2 linked regions of the Homo sapiens genome follow. The protein of the gene in region 1 purifies or fractionates together with the protein of each later gene. This does not show direct contact. Each region holds a gene or a part of one and is shown in the gene's direction. Other genes may lie near its edges.

Region 1 (3,815 bases):
GGCAAGAGAGCGAGAACTTGTCTTATAAGAAAAGAAAAAGAGGCTGGGCACGGTGGCTCATGCCTGTAATCCTGGCACTTTGGGAGGCTGAGGCGGGTGGATCACAAGGTCAAGAGATCGAGCCAACCAACATGGTGAAACCCCATCTCTACTAAAAATACAAAAATTAGCTGGGCGTAGTGGTGCACACCTGTAGACCCAGCTACTACTCGGGAGGCTGAGGCAGGAGAATCGCTTGAACCCGGGAGGCGGAGGTGCAGTGAGCCGAGATAGCGTCACTGCACTCCAGCCTGGGTGACAGAGTGAGACTCCGTCTCATTAAAAAAAAAAAAAAAAGTTAGAAGACTGAGAAAAGAAAAATAATGAAATAATTTAGAGCAGTCTGAGCTATGTGAGGTATGCAAAATTTATCAGGACAAGTGAGGCAGGAGTATAGGTCTTCAGTTAAGACCCCATGTTTAAAAGCATTTTGTTCCTGACTGGCTGCCTCATCTATTACCTACATATTCCCGAGATTTGTAATACAAAGAACAATGTATAGCCAGTCAAAAGCTTATGCTATTTTAATGTAAATTCTTGGCAAACAACTTTAAAACTGCTTTAAAACTGCTTTTTTTCCTCTAAACAACCACTTGTAACTGCTTGCTAATGAGGGCAACTTGAAACTCTGCACTTGGGTTGCAGTTCTCAAACGTGGCCCAAACAACCTCAGCCTCAACTTCTTCCTTTTAGGTCCTCTTTTCTTCAATACAAAATGAGATAATAGGGGTTGGAAGGAAAACCTTCAAGACCTATGGAAGTCAGTTGCAGCCAGCTCATCACATAGAGGTGCAGGTGAGGTGTATTTTCATCACGGTGGAAAATTCTGGCTGCTTCATCTCCATCTCTAGAGCCAATATTGGAGCTTTTCAATAAAAGCTATGGCCTCAACCACCAGCACCAAGAAGATGATGGAGGAAGCCACCTGCTCCATCTGCCTGAGCCTGATGACGAACCCAGTAAGCATCAACTGTGGACACAGCTACTGCCACTTGTGTATAACAGACTTCTTTAAAAACCCAAGCCAAAAGCAACTGAGGCAGGAGACATTCTGCTGTCCCCAGTGTCGGGCTCCATTTCATATGGATAGCCTCCGACCCAACAAGCAGCTGGGAAGCCTCATTGAAGCCCTCAAAGAGACGGATCAAGAAATGTCATGTGAGGAACACGGAGAGCAGTTCCACCTGTTCTGCGAAGACGAGGGGCAGCTCATCTGCTGGCGCTGTGAGCGGGCACCACAGCACAAAGGGCACACCACAGCTCTTGTTGAAGACGTATGCCAGGGCTACAAGGTGAGTGTGTGGGCCCGGGAGCTTTGGTAAGTACCAAGTCTTATCCTGCTCCCCAGGAGCTGAGATGATTTAACTTGAAACCTAACATTATGACTTGGAAATACAGCTTTCATCATGTCATTCTTCTGAAAAATAGTTTATGATGATTTCTTGCTCAATTATCTAGACTGTCCATCCTGACCTTCAATGGGATGGTTGGACTCTTATCTCTATCCATTTGTGTTATGATGAATTTCTTTTTGCTTTAGAACAGGTTGTTCTCAAACCAAACACCCGCATTTTTTCTTGTTTCACACCATGAATATCATTTGAAAAACCACAATATGTAAAGCCATGCAGTAGGGCCTGAAAACAGGGAAGAAAGACCCATCACCTTTTAGGTATCTACAGTCTAGTAAAGAAAACAAACCATCAAAAATGTCTGCCTGGAGGTCCCTGGTTTTGGTGGTGGGGAGGGACATTTAGGGTAGAGAGTGGTTCATCTTAGAAGTAACTCCTGAAGGACACGTAAAAATTGAACACCTATTGGGGGATTTTCATTTGGGGAATGAAGGGTCAGTGACATTGAAAATATCACTCTGGTACCTCTACTTTTTTTTTTTTTTTTTTTTTTTTTTCCTGAGGTAGGGTCTTGCTCTGTATCCCAGGTTGGAGTACAATGGTGCAATCTCGGCTCACTGCAGCCTCAACCTTCTGGGGCTCAAGCAATCCTCCCACCTCAGCCTCCCAAGTAGCTAGGACTACAGGGATGCCCCACCATACCTGGATAATTTTTTTATTTTTTGTAGAGACATGGTCTGCCTTTCTTGCTTATACTGGCCTCAAACCCCTGGTCTCCCTCCCATCTCAGCCTCCCAAAATGCTGGGATTAGAGGCATGAACCACTGTGCCCAGCTACTGTGGCATGTCTATGATAAAAGGAATATCAAGGAGTAAAATTCAAACTATCCGTATAAGAAAGGGAGGAGAGGGCAGATTTTAAGCACGATTCAGGAAGAAGAGTCAAAGATTTGGAAATGCTTGGTTGTGGAAGGTGAAGCAGAGGGAGAGGTTTTGTGTACCATCCAGATTTCTTGCCAGAAAGCATATTAAGGAAGGTGGGACTTTGCTGTTGGCAGCATGGAGGAATGGGCATAGTCCTGATGTCCTTTTTCCTTCTCTGTCCTGCCTAAATTTGAGGAAAATGTTGTCTCCAGTGTCAGGCTCCTTATTCTGTCCTCCATGAGGCAGAGGTGGTCTTGTATGAAGGCTCTAAGTCCTTCTAAGGACATGTCAATCATGACCACCACTCAGCTCATGGCAGCTCTTCCTTAAACTCCATGGAGCAGCTAATAACTGCGATGATCATATTCCCATTTGAATTACTTTTCCACCAAGTAGTAAGAAAAGGAACCAGCTTATGTTGAAATTGAGTTTTGTCACTTACTAGATGGGCAATTTTGGGCACGTTACTTAATGTCTTCACACCTTGGTTTCTCCATCTGTAAATGGGGATAATAGCAGTGTCCTCCCTCCCTAAAACACATACACAGGAGGTGGTTATAAGCTTTGAGGACATTAAAATATAGAATGCATAGAATAGCACTTGGCATATAGTAAGGACAATGTCATCTTTTGCTAAAACAGTTACATAGAACCTTTTCCTGAGAACACTCGAGAATGAATGAGTATACTTGTTGGGTTTACAGAGGACAGGAGACAATTCTTTCAGCATTGACTACAATTAGCAATTTGGGTCAGCTTCAAATCACTTTCAATAGAAATATGAGAAACTGTTTTGAAGAATAAGCTAAAAGCTTGACATGAATACTAAATCATTTTAAATTGGATTCATGATACCATTGTTCAAAAGATACCAGAATTCCCCTCTTCCATGAACTGTTTCTAATAACCAGCTGGCATCCTGATTTTTCCTGACTCATAAGACACAAAATTTCATGTGTGCCAAACACTGGTATTGGTTTTGCTTGGTTCAGCATGTTGTTTTACAAAATCTTTTAGATGATGATTACCTTGTTCTATATCCAACTTTTTCCTGGCAGGACTCTAGTGGTGGACATAGCTCAGGCTCTGGGTCAGCAGATGAGATTGCAATTGTTGCTCCACCACCTGGCAGTCATAGCCCTTTGGGCAAGTTATTTTACCCCTTTCTTAGTCTCATTTTCTACAGCACAGAAATGAAGTTTAAAATCCTACCAACTATTCAGGGTTGCCAAGGGGATCAGTATGTTCCTGCACATATAGCCTTTAGCATGCTCTCTAGCAAAAAACAATGAGGACTCTATAAATATTCACTATTATTCAAATATATCTTAGAAGATTGGGATTCCCCCTAGGTCCCTAATGAAGAGTCAAATTGAATAGGCTTCACTTATCAAATTTTTCCTTCAGGAAAAGCTCCAGAAAGCTGTGACAAAACTGAAGCAACTTGAAGACAGATGTACGGAGCAGAAGCTGTCCACAGCAATGCGAATAACTAAATGG
Region 2 (4,348 bases), on another chromosome or scaffold:
TTCCACTTTAGAGCTTTTCTTCCTTTCTAGCTGGGAGTTATCCTCCAAATTTTAACCTAATGATGTAAGCAAAATAAACACACTGAAGAGGTTGAGAAAAGAAAAACGGCTCACAACAGTCTGAGCTCTGTGAGGTCTGCAAAATGTATTAGGCCTAGAGGGACATGAGTATGGGACTTCGGTTATGCCCACCCTCTGCCCCCACATACACACATACCCAATCCCATGCATACCCAATTGTTTAAAGTCATTTCATTCCTGACTATCGGCCTCATCCATTACCTTTTTTTTTATTATTATTTTTTAGACAGGGTATATTCTGTCTCCCAAGCTGGAGTGCAGTGGTGCGATCATGACTCACTGCAGCCTCGACCTCCTGGGCTCAAGAGATCCTCCTGTCTCAGTCTTGACAGTAGGTGAGGCTACAGGTTCGCGCCACCAAGCCGGCCCCATTATCTTCGTGTTCTTAGAATTTGTAATACATGCCGGGCGCGGTGGCTCACGCCTGTAATCCCAGTACTTTGGGAGGCAAAGGGGGGCAGATCACCTGAGGTCAGGAGTTCGAGACCAGCCTGACCAACACGGAGAAACCCCGTCTCTATTAAAAATACAAAAGTTAGCTGGGCATTGGGGCGCGCGCCTGTAGTCCCAGGACTCCATCTCTAAAAAAGGAAAAAGAATTTGTCATACAAATAACAATATGTAGCCAATTGATAGCTTTTGTTTTTGTTTGTTTGTTTTGAGACGATGCGTCGCCCAGCTGGAGTGCAGTGGCGCGATCTCGGCTCACTGCAACCTCCGCCTCCGGGGTTCAAGCGATTCTCCCGCCTCAGCCTGCCGCGGACCTTGTCAGGGTCCGCGCTGAGAGGACGTCAGGGTAGTCAGTCCGCCAGAATACGGCTGAGCATGAGGCCTGCCTAACCTTGAAACCCAGCGCCCTCCTGATCCACACGTTCTAAGACGAATAAATCCTCACAGTCTGTGAAAACCCACCAGGAGAAGCACGTCCAACACTCTTTACCTCCCCAAACAAGTCTCAGAAGCGGGAAAACCAACGCCGCGAATGGGCGGGAAAGCCACAGCGCCTGCAATCGCTTCACCTTATTAGCTAATTTTGCTGTCCTTCCCAGTGGCCCGCCTCCCTTGCTCGCGGGCGATATTTTTATTGGCTTTCGTCTGCGAGGCGTCCAATCTCATTGGTTTGCCTTTCTGTTCGTCAGGCTTGGGCGCCTGGTGAAAGGCAGAGAGCGCGTCACTATTGGGGCTGGAGGCCCCGCCTCCGCGTGCCGTGTGCAAAAACAAACAGCCGTTAGGAAGGCGGTGCCGGGGGGGCGGGGTCTGGCTAGAAGGAGGCGCGCGATTGAACAGCCGCTGGGGTTCGAACCAGCAAGACAAGCGGGCATTGGCCACAGCAGCGCGAGGCGGGCACGGGGTATTGTCCGGCTCCGGCGGCGGCGGTCGGTGCTGCGAGAGCGGCGGCGGCGGCGCGGGTCGGCAGCGGGAGGGCGCGCGGCCGAGCGGAGGCGGAGTCGGCGCCGAGAACATGGTAAGGGCGGCCGGGTGGGCCGGGGGCACGGGGCCTGGGAGAGCAGAGCGCGGAGGCCCTGGCGTCGGCGCCGCTACCTGTGGAGTCGGGAGTTTGCGGGTGTCTGGGCTTCGTCCGGCCGAGCCCCTCGCCGCCCGCCGGGGGGCGCCATGTCCCAGCTGCGGAGCCCGACACGGGTCCCCGGGTGAGAGCTGGGCCTGGCCGGGTAGAGCGCGAAGTCTGTTCCGAGCCGGATAGATCTGTCCCGACGCTTGTGACGCTGCACCGCCCGTCTTAGAAGGAGGAGGACGGCAGAATCCGGCTTGGAAATGTAGAAACAAGTGCTGGATCTTAATGTGATCGCTTCTCTGTATGAATGAGGTCAAACAGGCTGCCGCTGTACAAGTTAGATAAGTCTTTGGCGATGTTTGGTTACGTAATCTCCCTGGCAGTCAGTTTGAGGGTTTCTGCGAAAGGGTGCTTGTATTTGTGGTCTTTTGAGCGACAAAGAATGGTTTTATAGACCAGAACCACACGATTTGTTCTAGGTGATTGCACAGGTTAGAAATGAACGCCCGTTATCTTCTGAGCCCCTTGCAGTTTGCGGTTTTCATTATACAACAGTACTTTCCTTTGCCCTTGCTATGGATTTTCAGTCTTAAAGTATTCATCTTTTCATTCTGAAATTCAGATCTAGATAAGAAGAGTGTGGCTTTAAAAAAATGAAAGTGAATAGAACTTCAGCCCCATTTTAAAGTTGAGGGGAAAAGAGAAGGTGCTAAAGGATACGCTCTGAGTTGCATCAAAGATTGTGTAAAAATAATAAGACTGTTATGGAATCTTATTTTTGCCGGTATTCGTGCTTTAAGCATTCTGTTGAAAGGTTACTTCAACGGGAGCTACCTGCTTAAAAGTTAGCACCAAGCTGTCATTTATCATACTGCAGATAGTATTAGATGATTTGTCTTGTGCTTGATGTGACAGATATGGTATTGAATAGACATAACACCTAACTGTAAACAGATTGGCCAGTCGAGAGGACAATGTTTGGTTATTGTAAAATACCCAAATCTTAGAGCTGGAATAGACTTTAGGGATAATTGCTTCCAACGTCTAACGTATAGTTTATTGTTATTGTAAAAAACCCAAATCTTAGAGCTGGAATAGACTTTAGGGATAATTGCTTCCAACGTCTCACGTATAGTTTATTGTTATTGTAAAGTACTTTATAGTACTTTATCAAACTGAGGTACAGCTTACATCTAATCTGTAAAAGGATTTGCTCAAACAGATGATTTTCATGATTCTAGTTTTTTGTGGTTTTTTTTTTTTTTGGTTTTTTGTTGTTTGTTTTTTGTGGTTTTTTGTGGTTTTTTTTTTTGAGACGGAGTCTCACTCTGTTGCCAGGCTGGAGTGCAATGGGCGATCTTCACTCACTGCAACCTCCGCCTCCCGGGTTCAAGCGATGCTCCTGCCTCAGCCTCCCGAATAGCTACAGGCGTGCGCCACCACGCCCTGCTAATTTTTTGTATTTTTAGTAGAGATTGGGTTTCACCATGTTGGCCAGGATGGTCTCGATCTCTTGACCTTGTGATCCGCCCCCCTCGGCCTGACAAAGTGCTGGGATTACAGGCGTGAGCCACCGCGCACGGCCAATTCTAGTTTTTCAGATATTTTTCAATCTCTAGTGATACGCTATATGTTTTATATCCACTTACCAGTAGCTAAAAATACATAAGTATTAACATAAGCTAAAAATGCAGGAGACATTGAGTTGTCGTTCTTGATAGATTTTAAACCTGAGAGGAAGTAAGCAGATGTCTGTTAAAACTGACATGAAAGTGTCTTAGTATCCAGTTTGCAAGTTTATCCAAGTAAAATGAACGAACTCCTACTTCCTCCTCTCTCTCTCTCTCTGTCTCTCTCTGTGTGTGTGTGTGTGTGTGTGTGTGTGTGTGTGTGTGTAATTTTTTAAAACCAACAACCTTAACTCAGGTTAATACGAAGTCAGTTCTTGGAATTAAAAAATTTAGATTTGGGTTCTCAAGCACCAATTATATTAAAATGAATGTTCAAAGTAGGGAGGCTATATATACAGTTTGAGGGGATATCGGAAAGAAAGTAATTATCCATTTATTGTATAGTTTTATATTCAGATAAGTTTGATACCATAAAAGTTTTCTTTTGTTAAGTATGAGAAATGTATCAGGAATCTCTAAATGTTGGAAATAGTCATTTAATGGATTGAGGCTTTTAAAACCTGACTGTATGTCTACTTCCTTAAAAAGCAAATAGAACACCAAATATGACATATCTGAAACAGTGAGGATAAAATTGCTTAAGCAGAGTAGTTATTATATGACCTGGGGAGCCTGGGGAATTTTGTAGTTGTTGGCTTTTTATTAGTGACTACTTCTTATTTTTTCCAATCCAGTCATAGGAAGACAGTGATTATAATTTTAGATGCCAGTTGAGAGGTTTTTAAGTGTTATATATTAGGGCAAATGGAGGTAACAAGGGTTTTTTATTTGAGAAGTAAGTAAGACTGTCTTGTTAGTGGAGCTGACCTCAAAAATCCAAAAATTGTATTTTTCTTATATAACAACATAGTCAAAAATTATTAAAATATGAGGCATTCTGGTAGAAATAGAGAGCGTCTCAGTTCTTACTGGTAAACTTAAATCAGTCTCTTGTTGAATTACCTAATATAAGAGAGTGAATATGAATTAGTTCTTAGATTTTTATTTTTCCTGTTTCTGATACCTGCCAGGGTTTTACTGTTTTTCTTCCATATTATCTTGGGTGACACGCACTTAATCCACT

What was found.
Region 2: the proteins of TRIM38 (region 1) and H2AZ2 purify together in Homo sapiens (affinity purification with mass spectrometry, with the first as the bait; one large-scale study listed by BioGRID). This does not show direct contact.

Annotation. Positions count from the first base shown.
Region 1 is NC_000006.12:25,965,603-25,969,417, forward strand, and holds part of TRIM38 (E3 ubiquitin-protein ligase TRIM38), read left to right. Parts: intron 1-732; 5' UTR 733-920; coding exon 921-1,331; intron 1,332-3,722; coding exon 3,723-3,815. UniProt on the Homo sapiens protein: E3 ubiquitin-protein and E3 SUMO-protein ligase that acts as a regulator of innate immunity. Acts as a negative regulator of type I interferon IFN-beta production by catalyzing 'Lys-48'-linked polyubiquitination of AZI2/NAP1, leading to its degradation.
Region 2 is NC_000007.14:44,845,167-44,849,514, reverse strand, and holds the start of H2AZ2 (histone H2A.V), read left to right. Parts: upstream 1-1,427; 5' UTR 1,428-1,543; coding exon 1,544-1,546; intron 1,547-4,348. UniProt on the Homo sapiens protein: Variant histone H2A which replaces conventional H2A in a subset of nucleosomes. Nucleosomes wrap and compact DNA into chromatin, limiting DNA accessibility to the cellular machineries which require DNA as a template.